Regions from separate parts of the Homo sapiens genome. Here region 2 is linked to region 1. The links come from fine-mapping of genetic effects on gene expression. A gene starts in region 1. The other region holds a variant in brackets. All regions are shown on one strand. Distances are from middle to middle. Region 1 holds the start of PDE6C (phosphodiesterase 6C). Region 2 overlaps FRA10AC1 (FRA10A associated CGG repeat 1).

What was found.
Region 2: its variant is fine-mapped to the expression of PDE6C in cerebellar hemisphere (GTEx, PIP 0.93).

What each region holds. Positions count from the first base shown.
Region 1 is chr10:93,611,065-93,613,955 of GRCh38, forward strand. It overlaps PDE6C (phosphodiesterase 6C), which reads left to right and starts at 1,473. Exons shown (of 22, transcript NM_006204.4): 1 at 1,473-2,141. The coding sequence starts at 1,662.
Region 2 is chr10:93,699,211-93,702,132 of GRCh38, forward strand. It overlaps FRA10AC1 (FRA10A associated CGG repeat 1), which reads right to left. Exons shown (of 14, transcript NM_145246.5): 2 at 820-896. The coding sequence starts at 896. Among named protein-coding and RNA genes, the nearest start is that of FRA10AC1, 1.9 kb to the right of the region's middle. The variant T/G (reference allele first, on the strand shown) is at 1,406.

The DNA of each region.
Region 1 (2,891 bases):
TCTCTTTCTTTTGTGACTATTAAGATTACTATCTCTCAGGCTGACACAGGTGGATCACCTGAGGTTGGGAGTTCAAGACTAGCCTGGCCAACATGGTGAAACCCCATCTCTACCAAAAATACAAAAATTAGCTGGGCGTGGTGGCACCCACCTGTAGTCCCAGCTACTCGGGAGGCTGAGGCAGGAGAATCACTTGAACCTAGGAGACGGAGGTTGCAGTGAGCTGAGATCGCACCACTGCACTCCAGCCTGGCAATAGAGCGAGACTCAGTCTCAAAAAAAAAAAAAAAAAAAAAGAAAAAGATTACTATCTAGAGAGGTAAATCTTAGAGAACTCAATGAAACTCATAGGGTTTCTATTTTTGAAGCAAACTTAAATGTGGGTGTAACAATAATTTTTAGAGTCACTGTAACATGTGTGTGTTTTCCACTTAAGAGAATTTGTCATATTAGGTTTGTAGCTTTATTGAAGTGTTTAAAACACCTTGACTAAGTTTGAAACCAACATTTAAGTATCGAAGGCAATTGGTTCATGAATTAATAGTTTGAATTATTAGTTGCATAATAGTGTTTAAATATTTGAGGAAATGTGTTTAATAGATGTAAAAGCTTAGTAAAGTGAACATTAAACAAAACTAAGTAGTGGTAAGTGTTCTTTCTATGCCAGTAGCCCCTGAGACGTTAAGGATCCTAGCAACAGACAAGATATCTATCATCTAGTAGATTTAGTAGACTGTATGTTGTAGCAAAATCGCATGACCTCTGGCTATTACTATTGAAAACAAAATCCTAACTAAGATACTTAGCAGAAAAACCCAGCCAGCAACTATGTAGGTTACCTTTTGTAATTACAGTCTCTCGACAAGGGTTATTATTCAATTCATGACTTGATTAGGTTTGGATCATTGGCAAATATTTTGCTATGTTCACCTCTTTAGTAATAAGCTTGAGGTTTACTCCTTTAAAACACTTCTGAGGTCAAGCTTTCTGAAGTGACAGGGATTGAGAGGTGAAGGTTCTAGAGAAAGAGGAGGCCAAGCAACCTTGGTGATCAAAAGACTTTTAAGAAAAGGAAAGATTAATATTCACCTTTATGTTGCAGTGATGCAAACTGTTCCATATCTCCCAGATGTTCATTACAGTTGCTATATAAACAAAAAAAATCCAAGCACTTCCGAGGTCTAAATAGTTTTACTTCCTATAGCTATCATACAAGAACGATTCAAAGTGCCAATTGTTGCCAATGTCGTGTCATTCATGGATATGTCAGTGATTCTTCCTTGCTGTGGACAGCAGCCGACATTCAGTTATTTTTCTGGAATAGACACCTCAGCTTGCTACTTGCTGGGCTGATCTAAGATACTCTGAAGATTCGCTAGGGACTTATGAGCTACTAATGCTCAGGGATTTAGTGTCCTGAAGAACTCTTTAATCCTGTGCTTCCTGAATCCCACCCTAAGCCAGGGCCTTCTGTCACATCCCAAGAGTTACAGGCAGTTTGAAAGCTCTGCTTTCTGCTTGACCTTTGGAAGTCCTATGAGGGACCATTTACGGTTTCCTCAGTAATTTCCACCAGGATGAATTTCCTTCTCATCACTCTGCCTCAGGTAGTGCTCTGAAGGTCGTCCTTTCTGAACAAACGCAGCAAAGCAAGCCACACCATGGGTGAGATCAACCAAGTTGCCGTGGAGAAATACCTGGAGGAGAACCCTCAGTTTGCCAAGGAGTACTTTGACAGGAAGTTGCGGGTGGAGGTGCTGGGAGAAATCTTCAAGAACAGCCAGGTGCCAGTCCAGTCCAGCATGTCCTTCTCTGAGCTGACCCAGGTGGAGGAGTCAGCCCTGTGCTTGGAGCTGCTGTGGACCGTGCAGGAGGAGGGGGGCACCCCAGAGCAGGGGGTTCACAGGGCCCTGCAGAGGCTGGCCCACCTGCTCCAGGCTGACCGCTGCAGCATGTTCCTGTGCCGGTCCCGGAACGGCATACCTGAGGTGGCCTCTAGGTTGCTGGATGTCACCCCCACCTCCAAGTTTGAGGACAACCTGGTGGGCCCTGACAAAGAAGTTGTGTTTCCATTGGACATTGGGATAGTGGGTTGGGCTGCTCACACGAAGAAAACTCATAATGTCCCAGATGTGAAAAAGGTAGGTGGCCTTATGACAGTGGGGCAGAGGTCTTGGCAGGGTCAGGGAGGAACAAATGGGAAAGAGAGATAGTGCTATCCTTGTGGCATTAGTTTGGCAATAACCGGGGGAATGTGGGTGGCAGGGAAGAGGATCACCCAGGCCTAGTGTTGCCAAATTTAGCAAATGAAATTTCAAGTTGCCCAGTTGAACTTGAATTTCAGATAAACAATGAATTATTATTTTCTGAAGTATAAGTATGTCCCATGTAAAGTTTGGCATTTTATCAGGTGATCCTACCTGGCCCTGGTGCATTCCACACACCCTCCCTTACGCCTCCTCCAGTGCTCTGGGGGACTTTCCTTCTCAGCAACACCAGCAAAACAAACTACCCCACTAGGGAGATGGGCCAACGTGCCCAGATGCCAAGACTTGTGAACTGCTCCCCATGCCTCTCATTCACAGTCCTTCGAAAACATTCAGGTTTTTTGGATGGATTTGCTAGTAAATCAATTCTTTCATCTATCGACCAAATGTGCAAAGAGAAAAAATGATGCCATTTGAAAGTTCAGATGTTCAAATTTGGAATTCATTACATATGTGAATTTAGGTGATGGTTAAGTGCAATTGACCACTCCCACTGCTCCATAACCCAGATCTTTCAAGAATGAATTCCAATCAAGTAAGTGGGACATTTGGACCCTCTTGAAGACCAACAGCATACTGCACAAATACAAGGCATTGAGATGCCCCTTATAGAAATAGAAAAAC
Region 2 (2,922 bases), 88 kb after region 1:
GTAAAGCATCAAAAATGTAATTTATTATAATTAGTACTATCCTTTATTGCAGAGACTGAGTATCCTATAAAAATGTTCAGAACCTGTTAGTATGCCTAATATATTGCTCTCAGTGTGAAATAATAAGCCAATTTCTATACATTTGCTTAAAAAAATCAGTCAACAGCCGTGTAAGTTTGGTTAGTATACATCAGTCAACCACTCCTGAGTCAAAGTATAAAACTGAGTTTCTATGCACTGAAAGCTAAGAACAATGCTCCTACGCACAGCAGCTCCACCAAGACGTATCCTGCTTATAACGCACAGGCTTTATGTGCTAAGAGTTTTTGTCTCTTGCAATTCAAAAAAACCTTCCTTGAGTTTCTTCCCGTGACCTTAGTCTGCTCATTCACGTATGCGTAAGAACTGTGCTGCATTATACTTTCATCCTCCATATTAACTTCACTTTGAAGGCAAGTAATGGCAAGAGACCACCATTCAAGCCCCTTCTGAGCTACAACATTTACAAATAAACAGTCCTTGACAGTTGAATGAAAAATATATGTAATGAAAAGGTTTCACTGATTTCTGAAAAGATTCCAGAAATCTGAAACTCTTCTTTCCCTTTCAATAAACCCCTTTGCAGAATTAATTTTTATTTTTCCCACAATTGTTCTCCAATTTTTAATCAATGTATTAGCTTAATGAACAAAAATTCATTCACTAGAGCAATTGTCTTCACATGTAAACAGAATTCAAAAATTTCACTCTTGTTTATTTATACTTCATATTAATCTAGAAAGGATGTGAAAAATAGATCAATAAAAAAAAATTACTTACCTTTTTTTCCTTTTGCTGGATTCTCCACAGCGTTCATCATCACTAAAATCAGAATCATAGCCTCCATGACCATGCATCTGTAAAGGAGTACAAAGTCAGCTATTTAGAATCTATGTTGCCAATTGTCCAGGAAACAATAATTCAAAAATAAGTTATCTTAAACAGCCACAATAGTTTTAAAGGATCATTGTGGGCAGATTCCTATTCACAGGCCATCTAGCCATCTAAAACTTTCATTCGCTTTTAAATAAGAGACATACCTTTCAGGAAATGCATCAACATTTTTCACCCTTAATTATCATTAGGTGAACAAAGAAGGCTACTCTTTGATCTTTTCACTGAAAAACCAGGCCTAAAAGCTGCAGTGACTGCTTACAAGGTTTAGCAATCCTTCACTTTTGATTCAGAGTAGTAATAATCACTGTGTGTTTATCACCAACTTTGTTCTAGACATTGTGTTAAATACTTTACAAACAACACTTCTAATTCTGCAAGTTAGAAAGTTATCTTCATTTAGGAATGAAGTAATCAAAGTTAAGTAAATCTATTTACAAATCCAGTAAGTGGCTAATCTGCTGTACTTGAT[T/G]CCTGCGCCCACAATTTCAATTACTCCAAATTTCCTCTCTGGAATATGATTTACTATATTCCAGGAGAATTACAGTATTTGTGAACAGTACATCATCAATTGATGAAAATTTTCCTGTAATCTTTTTCAATATATGTAGAGATTTCCATTTTCTTTTGAGTTTCTTTAAGGTAAACCACCTTGCCCTTTGGATTAGTCAGCTTTCTCTTGTTTCATTTTATTTATCCAGTTATTTTTGGAGAGTCTCGCTCTATTGCTCAGGCTGGAGTGCTGTGGCGCCTTGATGGCTCACATCCTCAACCTCCTGGGCTCAATCAATCCTCCCACCTCAGCCTCTCCAAGTAGCTGAGACTACAGGAGTGCATAATCACACCTGGCAAACTTAAAAAAATTTTTTTTTTGTAGATAAGGGGTTTCGCCATGTTGCCCACGCCGGTCTCAAACTCCTGGGCTTGAGCAATCCGTCCACCTCAGCATCCCAAAATGCTGGGACTTCATTTTAGAACTGAAATTCTTAGAAATGCTGGAAGACCTCAGTTGCCACTCAATTGTATTGGAAGAAGCTCCTAGTTCCAGCTTTGCACTGAATTTGGAACACACACTAAGAAGGAAGGATGGACTATTTGATGTCATACATAACTAATTTACATGGCTGGAAGGAACAGTCCAGGTTAAATGATATATCAAATTGTTAAAACTAATATAACGACAGCAAGTGCAGCTGGAAAAAGAGGAAAGAACTCTCTAAACTTCATTGCATTGGATCTAGGGTAAACGACATGTTTCTAGTCCTGGCTACCTTGAATAAGTCATTTCATCTCCCTGGACTTCATCTATTAAATAAGATAGCTACATGAAATAATCTTTAAGTTGTTTAAATCTTTAAATAACCTTTAAAGTCTGTAATTCCATTTTCAAACATAGGTGTGTGGGTATATACCTCTCTTCTCTGCCCCACTAAAATCCTAGATAGGAAGATGCTAGTTAAGGTTGGAGATGAAGGTTTGAAAGCCCGAGTTCCAACTCTACCCTCCCTTACATCTGTTATTGCCTTACACACCTGGATTTTACACCCTTTTTTAGGTCAACTCCAGCTGTCTTACCACATCTGTTCAAGCCATATTGTCCTCTCACTCTTTGTCCTATGTCCTCACGTTCTTTACATCTTGATGGGGGACAGCTGTAGTGTGTTTAGAGATATATTCTAGGATCAGCCTACTAGATTTCACTGCTTGGCTCTGCACTTTCCATTTGTCTTTCTTTGGGCCTGTTCCTTAACCTCTCCAAGCCTCAGTGTCCTCATTTATAAAAAGAGGCTAGTAAGATGGCTGACCTCATACGAATGGAGATTAAAAGAGTTGCCTCATCTAAAGGGTTTTAACGGTGTCTTGTACAGTGAAACCCAGTAAATGTTACATCATCATCATCATCTTTTCCCTCGCCCCAGGACACGACTTCCTATTCTTGCTCCCACTCTCCCATTTCTTTATTCGCTGGCCGCTCCATCCGACCCATAC